Homo sapiens: one gene and its partners. The protein of the gene in region 1 purifies or fractionates together with the protein of each later gene. This does not show direct contact. Each region holds a gene or a part of one and is shown in the gene's direction. Other genes may lie near its edges.

Region 1 (3,500 bases):
TAAATACAGGGAAACGTTCAGGGTGCTGCCCGAGGGCCTTATCTTCTAAGCACAGATCTCAGCCCTTCAGTAGCTCTTTGTTCTTTGATTAACCAAGACGAGGCATTAGAGAGTTTTCCTGGCAGGGTGGCTTCTGGATTCAGGTGTGTTACTCTGTTGTGCCTGGTGTGGATGAGCTCCCACCAGGAGGGCTGCAGCCCCTTACAGGCGAGTAGCAGGCACAGCTGTGGTTAGAATCACCTGCACACTGTGCTGAAAAAAAAACACTGTATTATTATAAGCATTTTCAAACATATAAAAGGCAGAAGGATAGTGCAGTGAGCCCACCACCCATCAATCATGGCCAGCCTTGTTTCATCAATTTCCCCCTTAGCCCCCGCTCACTGCTGATTATCTTGAGGCAGATCCCAGATATAGCATTTCATTCATTGAACATTTCTTTGTGTATGTCTAGAGAAAAGGGCTTCTTAAAAAATGTGCCATGATACCATTATCGCATCTAAACATAATAATGCCTAATATCAAATATGCAGTTGACATTTGTGTTTGCCTTTTGTCCTGTGCTTTCTTTTTTTCTTTTTAGATGGAGTTTTACTCTGTCACCCAGACTGGAGTGCAGTGATGCAGTCTCGACTCACTGTAACCTCTGCCCCACGTGGTCAAGTGATTCTCCTGGCTCAGCCTCCTGAGTAGCTGGGATTACAGGTGCTTGCCACCACGCCTGGCTGATTTTTGTGTTTTCAGTGGAGACGGGGTTTCACCATGTTGGCCAGGCTGGTCTTGAATTCCTGACCTCAAGTGATCTGCCCGCCTTGGCCTCCCAAAGTGCTGGGATTACAGCGTGAGCCATTGCACCCAGCCTGTGCTTTCTTTTTACTGCTTCTTTGAAGCAGGATCCAGCTAAATCCACAGGTTGCAATAGGCTAAAGTGGCTCTTACGTCTCTTGTACTTTGCAGGTTCCCTCTGTTTCTTTTTATGATGTGGAAAAACCAGGTGGTTTGTCCTGTAGGGTTTTCCCAAGTCTGGATTTTGCTGATGGCTTCCTCATGATGTCATTTCATCTGTCCCATTGTCCCATGTAATTTCTGTACTTTGACAATTAGATCTAGAGGCTCGATCCCATAGACATTTGATTTTTTTTTTTTTCAAAATCAGCTTCCTGGTGGTGATGGTGATGGCACTTGAGCAGTTAGCAGCTGTGGATAGTGATTTCCTAGATCCATTAACTCACTAGGGGTTGCAAAAATGGTGATATGCCAATTCTGTTTTGCCTTCTTTATTAACTGAAGTCCCACTATCAGGAGAAACTTCCGTTTGTTAACTCTGTTTATCCTGAGGTGCAGATTGTGTAGGAAAGACAGGATCACTGCTTTATTTTTTTCTTTTATTCAGTGATTTTCAAAATTATGAGGTGATTCCCTAGCACACTCCAAAAGTGACTAATGAAAGTTTATCTTCTTTTTTTTGGATTCATATGAATGCATGAATATAAACATATTTGATGAGTTTCAATCTGCTGTAGGTATACTGTCCTTATAGTTGCTCAAAACTTGTCCTTATTCCCAGCACTCGTGGTGTTTGAACACTGCCTTGATGTTGGTATAACAAGATGCTTCAAGCTCAGCTTGTACATTTCTGCCTATTCCAGAACTGTCCAGGTCTCTGGCTGTTTCCTGCTATTGGTTTGATCATTACTTCTGGGCCCTTTCAGGAATCAGAGCCAGGAAAGGGTTTATACTGATGCTTCTAACGTGCTACAAATGTGGGATTTGGGGTTTGTCCTTGACCCTGTCAATCTTATGGCAACATTGCCTTTAGAGATGTCAAAAATAGAGGTTCTCAAAGATGCCAGTACAATGGCTTGTTTGATTTCCCAGAGCTCACATGCAACAATCTTAGAATAACAGTTCTTTTTTTTTTTTTTTTTTTTTTTTAGATGGAGTTTCTCCTTGTAGCCCAGGCTAGAGCGCAGTGGTGCGACCTCAGCTCACTGCAGCCTCCACTTCCCAGATTCAAGCGATTCTCCTGCCTCATCCTCCCAAGTAGCTGGGATTACAGGCATGTGCCGCCACGCCCAGCTAATTTTGTATTTTTAGTAGAGATGGGGTTTCACCATGTTGGTCAGGCTGGTCTTGAACTCTTGACCTCAGGTGATCCACCCATCTTAGCCTCCCAAAGTGCTAGGATTACAGGTGTGAGCCACTGTGCCCAGCCAGCATAACAATTCTAACACTATTACGACTGACTGGTAATAAAAAAGACTTGATGAATTTTTTTCTGTTTGTCTTTAGGGAATGTTCCATTAGTCAATTGGAATGGTTTCTCTCTGTATTTATGCCACTAAGTGGACATATTTATTCATTTGATTCATTTCACTTTCAATTTTTAAGACTTAATTTTGTTTTATAAGAATGTAAAATATTTACAAGGTTTGAAAGTCAAATCTTCAAAGTAAGATAACTTCTTAAAAATCTGGCTCCTAGCCCTGCCTCTCTATCCTATTTTGTCCCCTCCCCTAGAGGATAATTTTTCTTATGTTGTGGTTTTTTTAAATTTTATGATTTTCCCTTCTAATGCATATATTTATTTGTGTCTCCTTTTTATTAGATAATGTGTAGTTCACCATACATACTTTGCTAGAATTTGCTTTTTTGCTTAACAATATTTTTTAGAGACTACCTTGTAGTATCAGATGGGGATTTTTCTTCTTCCTTTTAATGGCTCTGGAGTGCTCCGCTGTGTGGATCGCCCATATCCATGCGCCAGTCTCCTGCTGATAGACAGTGGGGAAGTTTCTAGAATTTCACTATTACTAGTAGCACCGCAGTGAACACCTTTGTGCATAGGTCTTTTTCCTGTTTTTGCCCGTGCATGTTGTACTTCCAAACCAGGTTGAGCTCCTGCCACCTTACTGGCTGTGGCTGGGGTCTCGCAGGCAGCAGTGAAGTAGCCGCGGGGCAGAGACATGGGGAAGCTTAACATTCGGGAATGGGAAGAGAGGGGCTGGGGCCCAGAGCCTTACCCTGGAGGAGGTCTGTCCAGCTGGGTCCCAGCCCCACCCTGCTCTTTTCCCTCCTCCCAGATCCGGGGTCACCATGTGGCCCAGCTGGACCCCCTGGGCATTCTGGATGCAGACCTGGACTCCTTTGTGCCCTCAGACTTGATCACAACCATTGATAAACTGGGTAAGACCCTTCCTCAGGACGGCCATGGCAGTGCTGTGTGGGTGGCCCAGTAAGGGGCCCACGGGCACTAGGGACAGCCTGATCCTTGGGAATCCATGGAGCTCGGGGAGCAGCCCACAGGGCCTCCTTTCTACCTTGCCTGTGTACTGCCTGTTGTTCCTGAGAAGGATGCCTGCCACTTTCCCTAGCTTGTGCCCCATGTGTTCAAGCCTGAGAGGCTTGTCCACCCTGCCTCCCTGGGCTCACTCTCACTTCTGCTCCCCAGGTTGGACCCAGAGGGAGGGCACTGGGGAGACTGGGAGGTCTGGTGAGAC
Region 2 (3,500 bases), on another chromosome or scaffold:
TTTAGACCCAGAAGTTTCCCAAATATGCAGTTATTATTGGCCATGTAGAAGTTTCTAAGACCTAGGGCCATATTTTCTAATGTTTAAATGTCATTTTTTTCAAATAATGTTAATCTTCAAAATGTGATTTTGTCTATTTCTAGAATGTGATTTTATCAGATCTCATTAAAGCAAACTCAAGAAAACTATTCAAGGGTTGGTCAAAACATGCCAGTATGTGAAGTATGATTGGGACATGGAGATATGTTTACTTGGAGCTTTGTTTTAGGCATACTTTATATAATTGAGCTGTGTATTTGAACTATATGAATATGACAAGTTACATAAATTTAGCTAAAGACATTTTGGTTTAAAATCTTACACATTTTTGTAATTTCTATAGGAAAAAGCTGTTGCTCAAATGAAGATAATGATCTCAGAGTGTGAATCATCTGTGAAGTAAGTCATTAATGAAATTACATCCAGCTTTTTAGGAGATTTTCAGTGAATACAGCTTTATCTATTCAGTAGCATTGCAGCAATAGAAGAATTTCCCTTTCAATTTCCCCATTTTTGTCAATGGTAGCATCATTTTCTCAGTCTCCAGCTTGAAAATGTTATCTTCTTTAACCTCTCCTTTTCTGTCATCCACATCTAAACACTTATGTCTTATTAACTATTCTCCTATATACCTATTTGTTCCTTATTTTTACTATAATTATGCCACTTGGAGCCTAATCATTAAAACCTAAAATTACTTTAGTAGCCAATCTCGAATTTATTCTCCATCTAAACCTATCTTGAGCACTGTCACAAAATTTTACATTTTATGTATAGTCTCTCTAGGCAGATTGTAAGCCACTTCAAGAAAAAAGTCACTTATTATATTTATTTTACATACCCTTAACATTTTATATAATAGTGGGGATTATAAACATTTAATAAATATTTGCCAATTGAATCTATGCTTTACTTTTTGTTTGTTTGTTTTTGAGACAAGGTCTCACTCTGTCGCACAGGCTGGAGTGTAGTGGCGAGATCTCTGCTCACGGCAACCTCACCCTCCCCAGGCTCAGGTGATCCTCCCACCTCAGCCTTCTGAGTAGCTGAGACTGCAGGCGTGTGCCACCACGCTCAGCTAATTTAAAAAAAAATTTTTGTAGAAACAACGTCTCCCTATATTGCCCAGGCTGGTCTCGAACTCCTGGGCTCAAGCTATTCAACTGTTTTTGTTGTTGTTGTTGTTTTTTGTTGTTGAGACGGAGTCTCGCTCTGTTGCCCAGGCTGGAGTGCAGTGGGGCGATCTCGGCTCATTGCAAGCTCTGCCTCCCGGGTTCACGCCATTTTCCTGCCTCAGCCTCCCAAGTAGCTGGACTACACGTGCCCGCCACCACACCCGGCTATTTTTTTTTGTATTTTTAGTAGAGACGGGGTTTCACCGTGTTAGCCAGGATGGTCTCTATCTCCTGACCTCATGATCTGCCCGCCTCGGCCTCCCAAAGTTCTGGGATTACAGGCGTGAGCCACCGCGCCCAGCCCCCAAGCTATTCAACTTTTAACACTTGAAAGTTTTCTGTGTTTACTTGACTGTTGGAATAACATTTTTTTTTAACTTCATTTGCATGTAATTATTGGTAGAGCTCTAAAATACCTGTTCTACCTAATTAATAGGTCTCTTAATGCAGCAGTTATAATTTCTTATAATCACAGTATATTTGTATTCTAAGTATACTTAGACTATAAGTTTTCTTTTAAATGAACTACAGTTTTTAAAAGTTTTCTTTATTAGTTTCACATCACTCATTTAACAGCCAGCTGAAAGAAACATTGGTTAATCGAGATCGTGAGATAAACAGCCTCCGGCGCCAGCTTGATGCAGCTCACAAAGAACTCGATGAAGTAGGAAGATCTAGAGAAATCGCTTTTAAGGAAAACAGAAGACTGCAAGATGACCTGGCTACAATGGCAAGAGAAAATCAAGTATGAACACAAGGCATAAATTTTGATAGTTTTATACTTTCCATTGTTTGCTAAATATTAAAGCTCTAAATATTTTTTCTAAAATCTGATGATATAAAAATAAGTGACATAAATAATTCATTAAGGACAATGGTGTTTATCAGGGTATTAAAAAATGGAGCTTAGGCCGGGCGCAGTGGCTCACACCTGTAATCTTAGCACTTTCAGAGGCTGAGGTGGGTGGATCACTTGAGGTCAGGAGTTCGAGACCAGCCTGGCCAACATTGTGAAAACCCCCCCCCCACCCCCATCTCTACTAAAAATACAAAAATTAGCCAGGCCTGGCGGCATGCGCCTGTAATCCCAGCTGCTCGGAAGGCTGAGGCAGGAGAATCACCTGAACCTGGAGGCAGAGGTTGCAGTGAGCCGAGATCGTGCCACTGCACTCCAGCCTGGGCAACAGAGTGAGACTCCATCCAAAAAAAAAAAAAAAAAATGGGCAACAGCGTGAGACTCTGTCAAAAAAAAAACACATAGCTTAGAATGCTGCTATATATCACAGGGTGTCTAATGGGTGCAACTGGTCTTCTCACCATTTTGGTCTTTGTTGCAAGGAAACCTAAAGGTGGGAGCATGAAATTCTGTATGTCAGAAATCATTGTCACCCTACCGGGCGAGGACATCAGCATCCCTCCCAGAGCAAAGTTTCTGTGTTTTAAAGACTCAGGATAGGTTTTAATTATTTGTGCAAGCTTCTGTCGGCTCCAAAATACACCTGTAGATAAATGAATGAGTGTTTTAGAATGGCAAGTACTGAAAGGTGTTAGTTCTGTTCGTGCTGGTTTCTTAAAAGATTGTACTGAGAAAACCAGTGATTTTACTGTTTTAAACATCTTACGTTTTTAAAAAATTATTTTCCGTATTATTCAGCATAAAGCATATTGATGAAATATGAATGTTTTTTAATGTCAACCCCTGACCATAGCTAGCCTTTAGTGTAAATGCCAGATACATGATCAGGACTATTATGGGAAATGTGTGATAAAGTTTGGTTAAAAAGTCAGTATCAGACCAGGCGTGGTAGCTCACGCCTATAATCCCAGCACTTTCGGAGACCAAAGTGGGAGGATTGCTTGAGCCCAGGAGTTTGAGACCAGGCTGGACATCATAGTGAGACCTCATCTCAGAAAATTAAAAAAAAAAATTAGCTGGTATGGTGACATGTGCCTGTGGTCTCAGCTACTCGGAGGGCTGAAGTGGAAGGATTGCTTGAGCCCAGAAGGTCGAGGCTGCAGTGAGCTGTGATCACGCCATTGCACTTCAGTCTGGGCGACAGAATGAGACTCTGTCTGAAATATTTTAAAAGGCAAGATCAGCCAGGAAAAATATGTGAAAATAACACTTAGGAACAGTTTTCCTTTTGCCCTACTCTATCTTATTCTCCAATTCCAAAGGAATTATTTGAATATAAATAAAATTTATTTGGTGTTGTGTTCATTTTAGATTGTCTTTAATTTTCTGATTTGTAGGAAATCTCATTGGAATTGGAAGCAGCAGTGCAA
Region 3 (3,500 bases), on another chromosome or scaffold:
CTTGATTTATTTTGAATGCTGAAGGGGGAAAGTTGAAGCTGGAAGAGAGAAGGGGACAGCTAAAAGGACTCAGGGGAGTTGTATGAGGAATGGTCCAGAGCACAGGCGGAGGGATTAGGTTTGGATGAGAGGAGAAGGGGAAGGCATTTCATTCTTGGAGTCCCCAGATTAGGTTAGAGGCCAGGTGGGGATGGGAAGCTGAGGAATTCGTATTTTATAACATTCTTTAATTCTGGAGTGAGACTGGGGCCCATGTCACCTGTAGTAAGGTGGTAGAATAGGAGCTTGAGAAGCATAAGAAATATTTAACTCAATTCTTGAGTGTTTCTTGAAGGTTAGGCATCGTGCTAAAACTTGGGATATGAAGATAAATAAGGCATGATCTTCTGCAAACAACTATACTTTGTGGTGAAGAACAGAGACAAATTAGCTCAGAAAAGGTGGCACTGGATTTGGCCTTAGGTTGGAGGGCTGGAGGAGGTCAGCTAGGTGGCATTTGAGCAGATTCGGAGGTTGAGTATAAGACTGCCAGGGAAAGTTGAAAAGGGAGAAGGGTGAGGATTTGCAGTGGCATGGATGTCTGGACAAGCAAGGCTAATAAGAAAAAAAAAAACAACCCTTTTTCTGGAGATATAATATTCATATAGAAAAGTTCATAAACCACAAGTTTACAGCTCAATGAATTTTCACAAAGCAAATGCTCCCATGTAACCAGCACCCAAATCAAGAAACAGAACATCACCAGCAGGCAGGGCCCATATGTGAGGCAGAAAGTGTTAGAATTTGGAGAGGAGGCTGGAGGAGTAGGCAGGGTCTTGCTGTGTTGGGTGTGGGAGCTGGGAGGGGAGGAAGGGTCTGGCGTGCAGAGATGGACGTTACATGACTTCTGCCTTTACGGTCAAGGTGTAATTGTTTTTCTACCGGTTTTGTAAAATGACTGTTACTTTGTAAAATTTGGGTAAAGACACCATATTTCCCTTGCTTATTTATTTATTTATTTATTTATTTATTTTTTGAGATGGAGTCTCACTTTGTCACCTAGGCTGGAGTGCAGTGGCGCGATCTCGGCTTACTGCAAGCTCTGCCTCCGAGGTTCACGCCATTTTCCTGCCTCAGCCTCCCAAATAGCTGGGACTACGGGCACCCTCCACCATGCCCGGCTAATTTTTTTGTATTGTTTTTAGTAGAGATGGGGTTTCACCATGTTAGGCAGGATGGTCTCAATCTCCTGACTTCGTGATCCACCCGTCTCGGCCTCCCAAAGTGCTGGGATTACAGGCATGAGCCACCACACCTGGCTCCCCTTGCTTATTTAGAGGAGAGAACTTTCTTACTAAATAATTATTTCACTTTTACATTATTTAAGATTTTGGAGGGGTATTTTTAAAAGGCTTATTTGAAAATTAATTTTGTTTCTCTATTTTCTCTTTTTACTCAGGGTTATTATGTGTACCGTGACATGCTAGGCGAAAAAGGAGATTTCATTACTTCACCTGAAATAAGTCAAATCTTTGGGGAGGTAATATACTATGTAAAGTATGAATGAAGCTAATATAAACATTTGAGAGCAGATCAAATTGTATTATTCTGTAGTAGTGTTCTACAGCTTTTTTTGTGATTCATCAAAAGTTTTAACTTTATAGTAGTTTATGTACTGAGGGAATAGAGAGGCAGTAGAGGGGAGTAAAATGGTAGAGAGAATATTTGAAAAGTTTATACTCCACTGTAGGAAGGGAAATGGAGAGATAAGAGGGACAAAGAGAAAGAGAAGGAAAGGAGGGGGTCATAAAGAGGACAGAAAAAGGAGAATCAGATGAAGGAAGAGAATGGAAGAAGGGGCCAGGCGTAGTGGCTCACACCTGTAATCCCAGCACTTTGGGAGGCCGAGGCAGGCGGATCACAAGGTCAGGAGATCAAGACCGTCCTGGCTAACACGGTGAAACGCAGTCTCTACTAAAAAAAAAATACAAAAAATTAGCCGAGCGTGGTGGCGGTCGCCTGTAGTCCCAGCTACTTGGGAGGCTGAGGCAGGAGAATGGCGTGAACCCGGGAGGCGGAGCTTGCAGTGAGCCAAGATGGCGCCACTGCACTCCAGCCTCGGCGACTGAGCAAAACTCCGTCTCAAAAAAAAAAAAAGAGAATGGAAGAAGGAAGAGAGACAAAAGGAAAGGCGAGGAAAGAGGTAGAGTGCCCAGGAGAGTGCCCGGGAAGGAAGAGAGAAAAGATAAAGAGCATTGAAGAATTAGTGGAATTAAGAGAAGCTCTAAAGCTCCCAGTCATGATTTTAGCCGTACTTACAGTAAAAGTCTTCTTTTATTTATCTATTTTTTGAGCCAGGGTTTTGCTCTTATTGCCCAGGCTGGAGTGTAGTGGCGCAATCTCGGCTCACTGTAACCTCTGCTTCCCGGGTTCAAGCGATTCTCCTGCCTCAGCCTCCCGAGTAGCTGGGATTACAGGCATGTGCCACCACTCCTGGCTAATTTTGTATTTTTAGTAGAGACAGAGTTTCTCCATGTTGGTCAGGCTGGTCTTGAACTCCCGACCTCAGGTGGTCCACCCGCCTCAGCCTCCCAAAGTGCTGGGATTATAGGCGTGAGCCACCACGCCCAGCCAAGTCTTCCTTTAATAAACAGAATTCTAATTCATTTCCACTAAGTACCTTCTATGAATTTAGAAATAGGAAATAGTGTATACGAGGAAGTAGAATGTGCGTATCGAAAAACATTAGTTATTATAAGAATCATGTAATTGTTTAAATCATATGAATATGAAGAAATGGCATAATCACATTTCATATGTTTATTTGCTTTCAAATACTAATACCTTTCTGCTAGTGATATCCTCTTATCTATGTCATGGGACCTTTTATAGCAGAGGCTGCCTTATTTTTTCCTATTAATCTTCCTAAATGGTGTATGTTATGATGTAGTCCCAGGAAGTTCCTATGTGAACATGTACGTATGTATTGAACAACATACATATGGCTGTACACATTTTGCTTTTTGGCATATAGTGCATATTTATGTGAAATTTTATATTGTGGTATACTTTTATACTTTATAATACTTTAATATGTGTTTTTTTTTTCCCTTTTCACAGCTACTAGGTATATGGTTCATTAGTGAATGGATGGCCACTGGAAAAAGCACAGCTTTCCAGCTGGTGGAACTGGGCCCAGGTAGGGGAACCCTCGTGGGAGATATTTTGAGGGTAGGTAATAAAAGAATGTCTTCTAGTCTCATATAAGTGAATTTTAGTACTTCTGAGTGTGCAAACCATGTTGATTTCATTGGTTTTCAGTTCCTTAATTTCATATTTCTCAGCTAAAATATAATGTCAGAATAATGTAATCAGTCATTACTTACTGTTGTCTGTAAACTTAAAAATTGGAGGGGAGGGGGAGAATATGAAAGCTAAAAATAGGAAACATTTAGAAGACATTATGGGAGAGTGTATTTGTTTCCTCAGGAAGGAAAGTTGTTAATTATATTAAAAGTTTA

What was found. Proteins that work in one complex are often made in the same cells at the same time.
Region 2: the proteins of OGDHL (region 1) and CEP135 purify together in Homo sapiens (co-immunoprecipitation; one large-scale study listed by IntAct). This does not show direct contact.
Region 3: the proteins of OGDHL (region 1) and NDUFAF7 purify together in Homo sapiens (affinity purification with mass spectrometry; one large-scale study listed by BioGRID and IntAct). This does not show direct contact.

Annotation. Positions count from the first base shown.
Region 1 is NC_000010.11:49,752,324-49,755,823, reverse strand, and holds part of OGDHL (2-oxoglutarate dehydrogenase-like, mitochondrial), read left to right. Parts: intron 1-3,083; coding exon 3,084-3,186; intron 3,187-3,500.
Region 2 is NC_000004.12:56,007,945-56,011,444, forward strand, and holds part of CEP135 (centrosomal protein of 135 kDa), read left to right. Parts: intron 1-382; coding exon 383-438; intron 439-1,790; coding exon 1,791-1,959; intron 1,960-3,467; coding exon 3,468-3,500. UniProt on the Homo sapiens protein: Centrosomal microtubule-binding protein involved in centriole biogenesis. Acts as a scaffolding protein during early centriole biogenesis.
Region 3 is NC_000002.12:37,234,658-37,238,157, forward strand, and holds part of NDUFAF7 (protein arginine methyltransferase NDUFAF7, mitochondrial), read left to right. Parts: intron 1-1,438; coding exon 1,439-1,519; intron 1,520-3,099; coding exon 3,100-3,210; intron 3,211-3,500. UniProt on the Homo sapiens protein: Arginine methyltransferase involved in the assembly or stability of mitochondrial NADH:ubiquinone oxidoreductase complex (complex I).